Homo sapiens: one gene and its partners. The gene in region 3 interacts genetically with the main gene of each other region. Each region holds a gene or a part of one and is shown on either strand. Other genes may lie near its edges.

Region 1 (3,744 bases), on a different chromosome or scaffold from region 3:
ACGAATCAGAAACCTCACACACTCATGGTGGAAAATGCTGCAGCCACCGGAGGAAACAGTCTGGCAGCTGCTCAAAGATTTAAACATAAATTACCACATGGTCCAGCAATTACACTTGTGTGTATATACCAGAAAGAAATAAAAGTAAAACATCTGTACACCCATGTTCACTACAGCATTATTCACAATAGCTAAAACGTGGAAGCAATTCAAATGTCCACCAACAGACAAACGGATAAGCAAAATGTGGTCCATCCATACAATGGAATATTATTCAGCCTTAAAAGTGAAGGAAATTCTACAATACCACAGCATAGAAGACCCCTGAGGACATCATGCTGAGTGAAATAAGCATGTCACAGAAAGACAGATAATGTGTGATGCCACTTCTATGAGGTCTTCAGAGTCATCCAATTCACAGAGACAGAAGGCAGAATGGTGGTGACCAGGAGCTGGGGCAGAGGGTGCGAAGTCAGTGTTTAATGGGTACAGATTTTCATGTCTGCAAGATGAAAAGAGTTCTGAAGACGGATGTGGCAATGGTTGCACAACAATATGAATGTTCTTAATAGTCCCCAACTGTACACTTAAAAATGGTTAAGACGGCAAACTGTACATATGCATTTTAGAAGAAGAAAAAATGGGGGAGGGGAGCTGTGTACACAGCATTGCTGAGTTATAGGCAATGAGACAAGTCTGAAGGCAACCAAACCAATCTTCTCAATGAAAATTTATCCGTAACAAAAAACATGCATACCACGCAGGCTCATTTGTTCACCAAGGAAAGGAAATTATTTTCAACTGCTGTGGATAAACTAATTCCAGTAATGCACCTTTTTGGTCATCAGGCATTAGTTTAAAAGACCGGAAGGAAATGTAGCCAGCCAATACGAAATAAGAGGAAATTAACTAGAAAGCTGCCAGCTGAGCATCACCAAGGAGACTCCGTCGAGAGGACTTTATTCCTGTTCCAGGCGGCCCACAGTCACCAAGAAGAGCTGCTTTCTGAGTTGGCAGCACAGTGGCGTTCGTGTTGGGCATGCACAAAGAGACACGGACTGCAGCCACACATGTGACCCTACGGATCATGCCCTGGAAGAAGGGCACACACAAAGCAACGGGACAAGGTGCTCGGCAATGCTGCAGCCGCAAGCACGAGAGGAGGGCAGAGAGGACAGGGTGGACGGGACACGGATTACCAAGGTGCGCTGTGGGCAGCTGGGGAGAACCGCGCCAATTCACACGTGGCCTCAGGAGCCGAGCAGCGTCACAGATGATGCAGCACAGCCACTGTGAAGGGTGAGCTGGGGCACGTGACGGCTGGGGATGGGGAAGTGTCATACAGACATCAGGGCAGAGACGTCTGGTAGAGGAACAGGAAGAACTTGCCAAGAGGCCAGAGACAGGAACAAAGAAAGGGAAGGAATCAGACCCTGCCAAGGCTTCTGAGTTGGGGACTGGAAGGATGCTGCTGACCTTGACACAGAGCGGGGACCAAGGGGAGGGATGAGGCTGTGGAAGCAGCTCCTGTCACAGCAAGCAGGAGGAGACTGTGAACACAAATGCTGGGAGCCACCACCCAGGGCCAGCTGGCACCGTTCAGGGACAGGTTACAGGGCCCTTGGCATCCTTCTAACTGAGGCATTCAGGGAGAAGACTGAAAGGGTCACTCCCCCACGGCGCTCAGCCCCGCCTCTGCCCTGGCCTGTGCACACACGCTTCTCCTCCTGCCTGGGAGCTGCTGCTCGCCTCAACCCTTCTGCTCTGGGATCTGCTTGCTCTGTCCCATGCACAGGGTGGCTTCTCCTGCAGCTCCTTTTAAGCATGGGCCACGGCGTCTTCATTCTTCTGCACTCACAGAGTCTAACAGCCACATCGCAAGCAAGGGAACGACACTCAGCCAGGGAATCCCTCCACACTGCATTTGCTGGGCAGCCCGCTTCTGGGCCTCTGTCCTGACACTGAACTACAAGCCTTCTCCTAGCCTTTACATGCTCAGCTGATCACTTCCATCCACGTTCAAAAAAAGACGCTGAGCAGACAAGAATCACACTTACCGTCTACAGGTCTACAGTGCGGGCTGCAAAGCACACTGCACACAGAGCACTCAGTGAGTCATGCAAAGACAGCGTGAGTGGGGGCAAGTGCCTCGGCGTCTGGCTGGTACCTGAGAAGATGTTCTTGAGGTTCTCCACGGCTGCGGCGAGCTGGCTGTGCTGCACCACGGCGTCTTTGACGTCCTTGAGGCTCTCAATGGTGTTGATGCTCTGCCTCCAGTCCTTGCTGACGTCTGCCAGCGACTGCTGGATGTCTTTGACGTCATTCAGGGCGTTGTGGAGCTGGCTGAGGCCTGTGCGCACCCCGTCCAACTGTGACTGGATGGCGGCCTAAAGAGAGACGCCACACGGGTGAGCAGAGCCAATGATAGCCATGCGCTGCCTCCTGAAGAACAAATCTTCCCCAGGAGGGTCAAGTTCAGGAAAGAGCCACTGAGTAGCAGGAAACAGTCAATACCCAGAAAAGAAAATAAAATCAACAAGGATTTAATTGATTCACAGTGTACCTTTTTCTTCATTGCTGCCTGGGAACAGAACAATGATGCATTTTAAAGCCTTGATGAGAAAAGGTCAGGACACTCCTCATCTAGCCTCACACCTGGTGATCCTGGACACTACCACGGGTCTGCCCTGGGCCGTGGCCTGCTACGGTACCTTCAGAAGGATGTCACCCATGCTCTCCCAGGCATCCTAGGTTCCTAAAAGGTCTTGTCTAGGCAGAGAGAACGGTCAGGACTTCACTGGCTTGGGGTGGGGGAGTTCCTGCTGTTCAGCCAGCACCACACTTGGCCCCAGGACGGCTGACCCACAGGACAGAATCGGCACCTGAGCTTCAGATCCGCTCTCTGTCAAATGTGAGTTAAAACAATCTGAACAAAATGCCCTCTAGTGGTGCTCTGTAGAAGAGCTTTAAATAAGACTACTTCTCCTTCCTCCAGTATTGTTTAAAAACTTAATAGACACTTTCAGGGTGTTGTTTTTGTTTCTGTGTTTTTTTTTTCTTTTTGAGACAGAGTCTCACTCTGTTGCCCAGGCTGGAATGCAATGGCACCATCTCGGCTCACCGCAACCTCTGCCTCCTGGGTTCAAGCGATTCTCTTGCCTCAGCCTCCCAAGTAGCTGGGATTACAGGCGTCAACCATCATGCCTGGCTAATTTTTGTATTTTCATAGAGACAGGGTTTCACCATGTTGACCAGGCTGGTCTTGAACTCCTGACCTCAGGTGATCCGCCTGCCTCGGCCTCCCCGAGGTGCTGGGATTACAGGCATGAGTCACCGCACCCGGCCTCAGGGTGTTTAAAAGCTTGTTCCTTTGGTGTTTTCACCATTCCCACTGTCTTCTAAGCAAAGCTACTGAGTGGTAATACACTGCTGAAAGTAACTGCTCAAGAAAGTCCAGCTCTGCCTCCTTGCACATTACCATAAAGGCTAGTTTAGCAAAATCATCATGGTGATGTCAAGCAAGAACCTGAAGCCCAAGACAGATCCTGGGAGTGGGGCAGGTGGCCTCACCTTCAATCTGGCCTCCACGGAGGCCTTCTTCCGCGCTTCTCTCCTGCGATACTGCTCCACCTTGTCCAGCTGGTCCGGGCGCTGGAGCATCCCAGCAACCCTTTGCACTGCTGTCGCAACGGCCTCCCGGTCTGTCTCCTTCATGGTGAAAAAGCTGGTGGAATCCTCACACTG
Region 2 (3,744 bases), 1.7 Mb from region 3:
TAGGGCCCTTTCACCCTATGTTACGGTTAGAGGAGGGTTTGGTCTTGTATCAGCTCTGCCACTTTCTAAAACTTGGTTATATTTCTTTTTTTCTTTGATGGAGTCTCGCTCTGTCATCCCGGTTGGAGTGCAGTGTCATGATCTTGGCTCACTGCAACCTCCACCTCCTGAGTTCAAGTGATTCTCCTGCCTCAGCCTCCCAAGTAGCTGGGATTACAGGCCCCAACCACCATGCCCGGCTAATTTTTGAATTTTTAGACCACCATTTTGGCAAGCTGGTCTCGAACTCCTGACCTCAAGTGATCCACTCACCTCAGCCTCCCAAAGTGCTGGGATTACAGGCATGAGCCACACACCCAGCTAAAACTTGGTTATATTTCAGCATGTCTAATAAAGATAGGGAAAGGAAGAATACAGACAGGCCTGCCTTAGAGATCATCATGAGCCTCAAATGAGATAAAATATATGAAAATGCTCTGTAACCTGTAAAGTACTGAACACTTAATAGCTTTTATGTGCTGGGGAAAATTCCTTCTTTGTTTTGTTTACAAAGTGATCTGCATAAGAATATCCCCTCTTGAGGTGATGGACACATGCTGGTGATGTGATGCGTGACTTTTTTTTTTTTTTTGTCCTAATTCTAGGGATGCCAAGGCCTGCGTAGTACACGGCAGTGATCTAAAGGACATGACCTCCGAGCAGCTGGATGACATTTTGAAGTACCACACTGAGATAGTGTTTGCCAGGACCTCCCCTCAGCAGAAGCTCATCATTGTGGAAGGCTGCCAAAGACAGGTCAGCCAGCACAAGGATCAGGCTGCTTTGGGCACTATTGGCTTTAGGGATTGGAGTTCCAGTGGAAACAGAGCAACGGTGATGGATGGATGCATACCTCGCTGTATTAGACTCAGTATAAATAGGCCAGTAGGAAGCTCATAGGCATAGAGAGGGTGACTTGTTAATGGTTTAGCAGTGACAGAAGCACTTTAAAGTCCAGGTGTCCACTGTGTCCCAGAGCCTGACCGCTCCGTGGAGTCATCTGATATGGGGTCCTAGTATTTGCAATAGAGATGTGAGTGGTCAGACTACAGGGCGTGCATACAGGAATGGCATTTTCTGGAGTGCCACCCACCAGAGTCATTACTTTGAGTAGCTCTTGTTAATGCTGGGGGCTATGTTTGTTGTCACTTCTCAGTTCTGTTATTTGGTGTAGGGCCTGTGTGAATACTTGCCTGTGACGGTTCTCAGGCTTCATAAATAGTCTCAATAGGAAAGGAGCAGTGTCTGTAATGAGTGCTCAGTGGGGGCATGCATCGCACTATTTCCATCGCTAGGAAAAGTGATTGGTATTAACCCGTTTTCCCTTTTCTGGGGTAGGGTGCTATCGTGGCTGTGACTGGTGACGGTGTGAATGACTCTCCAGCTTTGAAGAAAGCAGACATTGGGGTTGCTATGGGGATTGCTGGCTCAGATGTGTCCAAGCAAGCTGCTGACATGATTCTTCTGGATGACAACTTTGCCTCAATTGTGACTGGAGTAGAGGAAGGTGAGAGCTATTTAAGGTGTACACCAAGATCTTATTCAGATACTGCCCATTAGCATCCATTTCTGTATACTTCTTGGATATGTTCAGTTTCCAGTGTGCTTGTCTCATAAGCTAACAGTAAAAAATCTTGGTTTTCATAGGTCGTCTGATCTTTGATAACTTGAAGAAATCCATTGCTTATACCTTAACCAGTAACATTCCCGAGATCACCCCGTTCCTGATATTTATTATTGCAAACATTCCACTACCACTGGGGACTGTCACCATCCTCTGCATTGACTTGGGCACTGACATGGTGAGTGTCACAACAGTCACAGATCGATAGTAGTGAGGTGTGAGCTGTGTCTTCATTCACTGGCACTATGCTCCCAGCATCCATGAGGCTGGCGTTGGGAAAAGAAATTCTCAGGACCAGTATCCAGTGTGTGTCCCAATCCCGGCTTCACAGAATCAGTATTACCACTCTTCAAGGCAGCAGTTAACATTTGTTTATCAGATGGGAATCTTTATTTTTGTATACTTCACCTAAAAGATTTTTAAATGGGAGGGCAAGAATTTTATAACAAAAGGTTCACAATATTAGCTTCCTTATTTTTAGTAACTAAATTCCTTCTCCCCACCCCTTCCCAGGTTCCTGCCATCTCCCTGGCTTATGAGCAGGCTGAGAGTGACATCATGAAGAGACAGCCCAGAAATCCCAAAACAGACAAACTTGTGAATGAGCGGCTGATCAGCATGGCCTATGGGCAGATTGGTAAGCTGCAGCCTGGAGTGGGAAGCTGGCACATCTAAGGCATCTGAGGTGATGGTGTCCACCTCAGGTTGAGGTTGATTTCAGAGACTGCAAATCCAGGCGACTTTCAGGTCTAGGATGAGCCCTAACGGAGTGAGCCTGTGGAGTTTCTCTGAACTCTCTTCCATGTGAGAATACATCTGTTGCTGTTTGCCCAGTTACCTTTTGTGGAAACTGGTTTTCTATACTGAGCACCTTGGAACTGGGCTCAACTCTGCCTGAGAAATGAGGATGTCCTTCCTCACTGAGCCTTGCGGAACAGGAGGCATGGTTCTAAGGAATTGTGTGTACTGACGCACAGGCTGCTTTCCCTGGAGATACACACTTATCTGTCACTCACTTGGATGGAGTTAGGCATTGGAGAAAGTATATGTGTTTGAGAGTTTGGCTGGTAGGTCACCACCAAAGGGTGATCCTCCATCCACCTCACACTGGACTTCTGCCCCCACAGTGCAGCATGACTAGCTAACAGGTGATCCAGGTGGTGGGCAATCAGCATGCCATTTGTTTTTAAATCCTCTGCCTAGGGTTCCTTCAAGAGAACCTGGCAAAGCCACCATGGATGTCTTATTCTCCTGGATTAATGGGTCACATAACTGTGAACGCTTGGATAAAGAAGAACAGATTAGATAGAATATTGTGGAAATTATGGCAAAGATTCATTAGACAGTTGTTGGCAACAAAGTAATTGGCTGGTGGCCCATCCTGACCTTCTCCAAGGAGGCCTGCTTTTGAGAGGAAGGAAGACTAGGTCTCTGGTGGTTTAGGATGAAACCCTGCCCTGAGGAACTTGGAGCAGCGTGGTTAAATTGGATGCCAGGGGGAGGAGGGTCCTGAAGGTGGGGAGGAGAGTCAGAAAGTGCCACAGTGGCTAGAAAAATGGCAGCATGTAGGAATTTTGAAAGATGGAAAAGAAGTTATCATTTGTCAGAGATTAAAAAGTAGGGAAGTGGATTTCCCCTAAAGGTCATACCCTTAGAAGCAGCTGGTCAAGTAACAGGTGGGCATTTTGAGAGCAAGGCACATGTGTCTTTGTGTAGGCTCCAAAAAGTGACTCAAAAAGCAGAGGGCCCTGAGATTGGAGTGTATGCCTGGGGTCCTCCATCCCATCCCTCATAGCCTGTGAGTGACCAGGCAATTCTTTCCTGTGCTTTTATCAACCAGGGGGAAACACTCCTCCATATGTGCTCTCCCAGGCCTGCTGCAGTAATCAGCTGAAGGCTATACAGGTACCCTTGTGTGTGAGGTTCTAGTAATTGGGTTGTTTTCCCAACTTAGGAATGATCCAGGCCCTGGGAGGCTTCTTTACTTACTTTGTGATTCTGGCTGAGAACGGCTTCCTCCCAATTCACCTGTTGGGCCTCCGAGTGGACTGGGATGACCGCTGGATCAACGATGTGGAAGA
Region 3 (3,979 bases):
AGTGGAACAATTATGGCTCACTGCAGCCTTGACCTTTCTGGACCCAGGTGATCCTCCCACCTCAGTCTCCCAATTAGCTGGGACTACAGGCATGCGCCACCACACCCAGCTATAATATATATTGTATATATATTTTTTATTTATAAATATATATAAATATATATTTATATGTGTAAATTATATATATTTATATATTATAAATTATATATAAATATATATTTATATATAATATATATAATATATATTTATTTTTATATATTTTATATATATTTTTTGGGGGGGGTTGGGGGGGATGGAGTCTCACTCTGTCGCCCAGGCTAGAGTGTAGTGGCGTGATCTTGGCTCACTGCAATCTTCGCCTCCCAGGTTCAAGCGATTCTCCTGCCTCAGCTTCCCGAGTAGCTGGGACTATAGGCGCCTGCCACCACACCTGGCTAATTTTTGTATTTTTAGTAGAGATGGGGTTTCACCATATTGGCCAGGCTGGTCTTCAACTCCTGACCTTGTGATCTGCCCACCTCAACCTCCCAAAGTGCTGGGAATACAGGCATGAGCCACTGCACCCAGCCTAATCTTTGTATTTTTTTGTAGAGACCGGGTTTTGCCATGTTGCCCAGGCTAATCTCAAACTCCTGGGTTCAAGCAGTCTGCCCTCCTCAGCCTCCCAAAGTGCTGAGATTGCAGGCATGAGCCACTGTACCCAGCCTAATCTTGTTTTTCTTATGTTCTGATAATATATTCCCGTTTTTAGGGAGCAGATTAAGCGAGTAAAAGACTCGGATGATGTACCTATGGTGCTAGTGGGAAACAAGTGTGATTTGCCAACAAGGACAGTTGATACAAAACAAGCCCACGAACTGGCCAAGAGTTACGGGATTCCATTCATTGAAACCTCAGCCAAGACCAGACAGGTATGGTACAGCTTTCAGCATTTGTGCAAGAGTTTGCATCAGTTGATTAACTCTGGTAGAGATGTGATCCATATTCATATTCTTTGTTGTTATGCATTTTTTTCATTTTTATTTTTTTATTTTTTATTTTTTTTTAGGCAGAGTCTCACTCTATCTTCTAAGCTGGAGTGCAGTGGTGTGATCTCAGCTCACTGCAGCCTCTGTCTCTTGGGTTCAAGTGATTCTCCTGCCTCAGCCTCCCAAGTAGCTGGGACTACGGGCACATCATCATGCCCGGCTAATTTTTGTACTTTTAGTAGAGACAGGGTTTTACCATGTTGCCCAGGCTGGTCTCGAACTCCTGGCCTCAAGCAATCCTCCCACCTGGGCCTCCCAGAGTGCTGGGATTACAGGTGTGAGCCACCACGCCCAGCCTGTTGTTAGGCATTTTTAGTAGTGTTCTTTTTCTTAACGCTTGTTTAAACCCAAAATGAACTTACTAATATTCTGTTATGGCATGTTTACTCCTGCATTAACATCCACAAATATTTCTTGGGAAGATCCTTGACTAAAAATATTTATAAACATTAGTTATTTCTCTGTCAACACCAGCCCGTTTATGGCTTAAGCCTCCTGAATGGAGTCTTTAGTTTAATGTAGTTTTGTTCCGTGTTTCTCACATTACCCTTTTCCTTTGCATGAATGTTTATTTGGCAAAATGTGCCATTTTTATATCAGCCTGTTCTTGTGATTCAATAGGAATGTGAAATTTAGTGTTCTCTTCCTTAAATCACCATATTTTATTTTATCAGCTATTCGTTTAGTAATTGGAATCTTATGTCCACATAAAGAGATACAAATGCAAGAGAGCTTATAATTTGGATTGTGTCCGTTGAGCTAGCTCTCTCATTTTTTTTCATTTTTTCCTTTTATAGGGTGTTGAAGATGCTTTTTACACACTGGTAAGAGAAATACGCCAGTACCGAATGAAAAAACTCAACAGCAGTGATGATGGGACTCAGGGTTGTATGGGATTGCCATGTGTGGTGATGTAACAAGGTGAGCATATGGTTTCTTGGCATAATTACAAATCTTAGTATATAGTATTGGGCAATTTGGAGGAGTGCTGGTGTTATTGTCTATATGTTTTTTGAGTTTCTGCCTATCCTCTTCTGCACATTTTCCATATGACACCCTTTCTGAAAGTACTGAGGTCTAAAGTGTTTAAAACATTTGATTATTCCACAGGTATCTTTATATTTTTGGTAACATTAGAAATTATAAGACATTATTTATGAAATGTAGGCATACCCTATTCCTGGCAATGACCAGGAATTTGAAGGATCACTACTTTGAAACTAGTTAATAAGGACATGGTTTCTGTTCTTTTTTTACAGATACTTTTAAAGTTTTGTCAGAAAAGAGCCACTTTCAAGGTAGGACAAGTTTGGAAATGTATTCTCATTCCTGTTAATTTTGTATATTTGTTTTTCTTATACTCTGAATGTGTCACTTATACAAATTCTGTTTCTATTTCAGCTGCACTGACACCCTGGTCCTGACTTCCCTGGAGGAGAAGTATTCCTGTTGCTGTCTTCAGTCTCACAGAGAAGCTCCTGCTACTTCCCCAGCTCTCAGTAGTTTAGTACAATAATCTCTATTTGAGAAGTTCTCAGAATAACTACCTCCTCACTTGGCTGTCTGACCAGAGAATGCACCTCTTGTTACTCCCTGTTATTTTTCTGCCCTGGGTTCTTCCACAGCACAAACACACCTCTGCCACCCCAGGTTTTTCATCTGAAAAGCAGTTCATGTCTGAAACAGAGAACCAAACCGCAAACGTGAAATTCTATTGAAAACAGTGTCTTGAGCTCTAAAGTAGCAACTGCTGGTGATTTTTTTTTTCTTTTTACTGTTGAACTTAGAACTATGCTAATTTTTGGAGAAATGTCATAAATTACTGTTTTGCCAAGAATATAGTTATTATTGCTGTTTGGTTTGTTTATAATGTTATCGGCTCTATTCTCTAAACTGGCATCTGCTCTAGATTCATAAATACAAAAATGAATACTGAATTTTGAGTCTATCCTAGTCTTCACAACTTTGACGTAATTAAATCCAACTTTCACAGTGAAGTGCCTTTTTCCTAGAAGTGGTTTGTAGACTTCCTTTATAATATTTCAGTGGAATAGATGTCTCAAAAATCCTTATGCATGAAATGAATGTCTGAGATACGTCTGTGACTTATCTACCATTGAAGGAAAGCTATATCTATTTGAGAGCAGATGCCATTTTGTACATGTATGAAATTGGTTTTCCAGAGGCCTGTTTTGGGGCTTTCCCAGGAGAAAGATGAAACTGAAAGCACATGAATAATTTCACTTAATAATTTTTACCTAATCTCCACTTTTTTCATAGGTTACTACCTATACAATGTATGTAATTTGTTTCCCCTAGCTTACTGATAAACCTAATATTCAATGAACTTCCATTTGTATTCAAATTTGTGTCATACCAGAAAGCTCTACATTTGCAGATGTTCAAATATTGTAAAACTTTGGTGCATTGTTATTTAATAGCTGTGATCAGTGATTTTCAAACCTCAAATATAGTATATTAACAAATTACATTTTCACTGTATATCATGGTATCTTAATGATGTATATAATTGCCTTCAATCCCCTTCTCACCCCACCCTCTACAGCTTCCCCCACAGCAATAGGGGCTTGATTATTTCAGTTGAGTAAAGCATGGTGCTAATGGACCAGGGTCACAGTTTCAAAACTTGAACAATCCAGTTAGCATCACAGAGAAAGAAATTCTTCTGCATTTGCTCATTGCACCAGTAACTCCAGCTAGTAATTTTGCTAGGTAGCTGCAGTTAGCCCTGCAAGGAAAGAAGAGGTCAGTTAGCACAAACCCTTTACCATGACTGGAAAACTCAGTATCACGTATTTAAACATTTTTTTTTCTTTTAGCCATGTAGAAACTCTAAATTAAGCCAATATTCTCATTTGAGAATGAGGATGTCTCAGCTGAGAAACGTTTTAAATTCTCTTTATTCATAATGTTCTTTGAAGGGTTTAAAA
Region 4 (3,744 bases), on a different chromosome or scaffold from region 3:
CTCTGTAGGCCCTAGAAGCCTTCTCGCACTTAGCACTAGTCGACCGTCACTTCTGGCTCAGCATACACTGTGGTCTGGCTGCTGCTGCCAGATTCCAGTGCACCGTCGGTGACTCCTGCAATGATGTTATCAACATGGAGCTCCACTACAAATACCTGGCTAACAGTTGTCCTCACATCTCCTCTGTTGTGTGTGCTTTGTGGCAGGTACTTCAAGCGTAGCGAGGGCCTGGAGCGCCACCTTCGACGAGCTGATAGGCAGACCCATCGGGGAGTTCTCACGGACACACATGACTCTGAACGCCCCCGGCGTGCTGGCTGAAAACCCCGACATATTCGCAGTGATCATAATTCTCATCTTGACAGGTAAAGCCCACACTTAAAAAGAGATCGGGTCAGAGTGATGGGCAAAGGTTTGGTGAGAGGCTCCTGTTAAGTTCCTTTCTTTACTTATCTCTTTAACCATAACCCCCATTTCTTTTTGTTTTGTTTTTGTACTGCATGCAGGCATCTTTATTTGTTCCTGTCTTCATTGCTTCTTATAGATTCAGATAGGGCCGGCCTGCTTCATAGCTGTTGAATTGTGTGCCATTTCATTAAAAGAGAATCTTAGGTGTTTAGCCTAGCTGTTTGTGGAATAAGATTTTGTCTGCACTGCAGGCTTTTTGTGTGAGTGTCCTGGGAATAAAAGTTCTTTTGACTCAGTGGATGACCATTTGGAAAGCAAAACTGTCATTCATCAGCCAGGAAAATGTGGAGGAATGAGCTCCGTCTGGAACACTAATGTGTGCCTGGGGCGTCTGAAGATGACTTGGATGGTTTTTACACCTAACAACCATCAAAACACCCTTTCAGTAAATAAGTTTCATGACAGAGTTGTGGTTACAGAATTTGAAAAATCCCAGAGACTGCCTGAACACAGCTGATGGCAACTTCTTGCTAGTGACATTTGTGCGTGTCTTGGCCAGTGCAGCGCGAGTTTTGCTCTGTGGGGCTCCATAAACATGAAGCTGAAATGCAGATAAATTCTCATTTGGGGTTAGAAAATCTTGGATGAGTTTTAAAAATGACATGCCTTATTTTACACACCACATAATTGAAATAACTTCACTCAGGCTGGTCTCAGCAGTATTTCTGGTCCAGCTGGCAGAAACATGCATCAGAAAGTAAGTCTGCACTAGTGAGATTTCATTTTAATAAACCTGAGAGGGAGGGACACTAAAGAAACAATATATTGTTGTTTGTTGAGGTGTTCTCCCTGTGATTAATTACACAATTCTCTTCTAACATCTGTACTTTATAATTCAATCTCAAAAGTACAGCAGTTTTTATTTTATTTTATTTTATTTTATATTTGAGACAGAGTCTTGTTCTGTCACCCAGGCTGGAGTGCAGTTGCGCGATCTTGGCTCACTGCAACCTCTGCCTCCTGGGTTCAAGCGATTCTCACACCTCAGCCTCCCCAGTAGCTGCGATTACAGACACGCACCACCACACCCAGTTAATCTTTTATATTTTTAGTAGAGGTAAGGTTTTGCCATATTGGCCAGGCTGGTCTGGAACTCCTGACCTCAAAAGATCTGCCTGCTTCCCAAAGTATTGGGATTACAGGCGTGAGCGACCGCACCTAGCCAATTTTTATTTTAAAACGATGAGAGGCGTCCATGGCAGAGCAGTGGTCTCAAATCCTGGCTGTGTTCGAGTGGTACCAACCCCTTCTGTGCCACTTTTCTTGCCCAGCAGAGAGTTCAGCTATGGAAGTACCCGAATGACCTCTTCACCCTAAGGTGGTGCTGGGGCATGTGCCTCAAAGGCAGTGCTGTCAGAGGTTCCTGGGCATCTTTATTACTTATAGTTTTCTTTAAAAAAAAAACGTGAGTTTGCAAGCTAGAGCTAGCCTAGCTCAGATGTTATTTTATATGCACTGAGTCCAACGAAGAACCATGTGTGTTAGTGGTTCCAGAACCATAGCTAGTTGTTATTGTTAATATCACTAACATCCCAAAGTCAACCAGAATAATTTCCTCTTCTGAAAAATGTCCATTCTCCCAGGAAACTATGCAAAGTCTTTCTTCCTGGAATTGTTCCTAGAGGTTGTTTCCCAGCAACGCATCCTTTTAGTGAGAGGGAGCGGCTTGGTGTGCGGGTCCAGGCTTTCCCCTCCCTATGAGAGGGGCTCATGCTCCAGATCTCTGCAGTTCTCGGGTGCCCCTTGGGTGGGCTTCTCAGTTCCCAAGGGTATCTGGAGGTCACCTAGGAGGGCCTGGGAAGCACCCACAACCTTGGTGATTTAAACCCCTGATCCCCGCCCCCAGAAAGATAATTAATCCACCCCATTCCCAGAGGCTCACAGAGGTCTGCAGAGGCTCGATGCACTTGGATTCTTTTTCAGTCGCCTTCTTATCCCCATCCAGGAAGGACCTTCCCAGTTTGTGGTTAACACTCAGACAAAGTTTTGTGTCTATGCACTTTTTCAGGACTTTTAACTCTTGGTGTGAAAGAGTCGGCCATGGTCAACAAAATATTCACTTGTATTAACGTCCTGGTCCTGGGCTTCATAATGGTGTCAGGATTTGTGAAAGGATCGGTTAAAAACTGGCAGCTCACGGAGGAGGATTTTGGGAACACATCAGGCCGTCTCTGTTTGAACAAGTGAGTTGCTGCTTCTGACCATTTTTCTTAGTTGACATTTAATGACATAGATTGTATGGGGGATATAACTGGCTAGGATGGCATGTGCTTTTAAGAAAACATTATTTGAGGATATTTTGTTAATTGTTTTGTGTTTTTGCAGTGAAGTAGCTGAGGGTATTTTGTATGTATCAAGTTTGTGTGAAGGTTTATTCCCCTGAAATGGAAAGACTATTGTATGACAAGAAAGACTGAGGAAAAGAAAATCATCACCCTAATTCCAAATTGTGTATCATTCAGGATTCTTGTCAGACTCATTAAATGATCCCTCTTTCCCCAGATTCTGTTTGATGGCCAACTTTGGAATTTTGTGTTCAGAAAAGATTTTTCTCTGCAGTGCCGTGGTGACCTCACTTCACCTTTAAATACCTTCCTATTAGATTAATAATGTAGAGGGAAGAGAAATAGGTGAAACTATTTTTGAAGGTTTTCAGAATGACTGAAGTGTCAGAATGTGAGCACAATAGTCTTTCGCCGACATTTGACTTGTGCTGCTCAAGCCCTGGCGACAGTGGCCCCATCACCCTCATGTCTCTGACACAGACATCCGGAACTGGAGGTGACAGCTCCACCCTGTGCCATCTCAGGTCTCTCGCCCAGCCCTCATTGAAAGCTCAGATAACCTAGGAAAAAAAAGCCAAACAGTCATATCTTTTTTATCTTTGTTGTCAGATCTCCATGTAATTCTTTAGGTCTCAGGATGGACAATGGGGACTTGGATTTTGTGTGTGATTCTTCATTAAGACTGAAGGTTGAAACTGCTATGATAAAGAGACCCCCTCCAACTGCCACAATGGAGTGTGGCTTTAAAGAAGAGATGTTTCCAGTCCTGAAGTGAGCAGTCCGCGTTGGCTGGCCAGCTTTGCCACAGGCCTCTGTGGACCTAGACATCTTCTGTCTTGCTCCATCTTCCCCCAGGACATTGTCCTCATCTGCCTGGTCAGAGCTGGCTGTAGGCACGAGCATGACCCAGCTCTTCCAGAAGGGAAAAGAGAGCGTAGAGGAGAGTGCTCAGGTCTGTTCAGGACAGACCAGAAGACACACAGACATTCCA

The links.
Region 1: changes in NRAS (region 3) and EXOC3 together harm fitness more than expected from each alone (negative genetic interaction), as found in Homo sapiens cells (one study listed by BioGRID).
Region 2: changes in NRAS (region 3) and ATP1A1 together harm fitness more than expected from each alone (negative genetic interaction), as found in Homo sapiens cells (one study listed by BioGRID).
Region 4: changes in NRAS (region 3) and SLC7A1 together harm fitness more than expected from each alone (negative genetic interaction), as found in Homo sapiens cells (one study listed by BioGRID).

The regions. Positions count from the first base shown.
Region 1 is NC_000005.10:446,176-449,919, reverse strand, and holds part of EXOC3 (exocyst complex component 3), read right to left. Parts: 5' UTR 3,715-3,744; coding exon 3,571-3,714; intron 3,100-3,570; exon of another isoform or gene 2,712-3,099; intron 2,582-2,711; exon of another isoform or gene 2,528-2,581; intron 2,388-2,527; coding exon 2,168-2,387; intron 1-2,167. UniProt on the Homo sapiens protein: Component of the exocyst complex involved in the docking of exocytic vesicles with fusion sites on the plasma membrane.
Region 2 is NC_000001.11:116,397,244-116,400,987, forward strand, and holds part of ATP1A1 (sodium/potassium-transporting ATPase subunit alpha-1), read left to right. Parts: intron 1-644; coding exon 645-795; intron 796-1,377; coding exon 1,378-1,546; intron 1,547-1,686; coding exon 1,687-1,841; exon of another isoform or gene 1,842-2,071; intron 2,072-2,176; coding exon 2,177-2,300; intron 2,301-3,617; coding exon 3,618-3,744. UniProt on the Homo sapiens protein: This is the catalytic component of the active enzyme, which catalyzes the hydrolysis of ATP coupled with the exchange of sodium and potassium ions across the plasma membrane.
Region 3 is NC_000001.11:114,706,501-114,710,479, reverse strand, and holds part of NRAS (GTPase NRas), read left to right. Parts: intron 1-751; coding exon 752-911; intron 912-1,825; coding exon 1,826-1,945; 3' UTR 1,946-1,949; intron 1,950-2,287; 3' UTR 2,288-2,326; intron 2,327-2,429; 3' UTR 2,430-3,979. UniProt on the Homo sapiens protein: Ras proteins bind GDP/GTP and possess intrinsic GTPase activity.
Region 4 is NC_000013.11:29,529,445-29,533,188, reverse strand, and holds part of SLC7A1 (high affinity cationic amino acid transporter 1), read left to right. Parts: intron 1-206; coding exon 207-365; intron 366-2,476; coding exon 2,477-2,651; intron 2,652-3,744. UniProt on the Homo sapiens protein: High-affinity, low capacity permease involved in the transport of the cationic amino acids (arginine, lysine and ornithine) in non-hepatic tissues.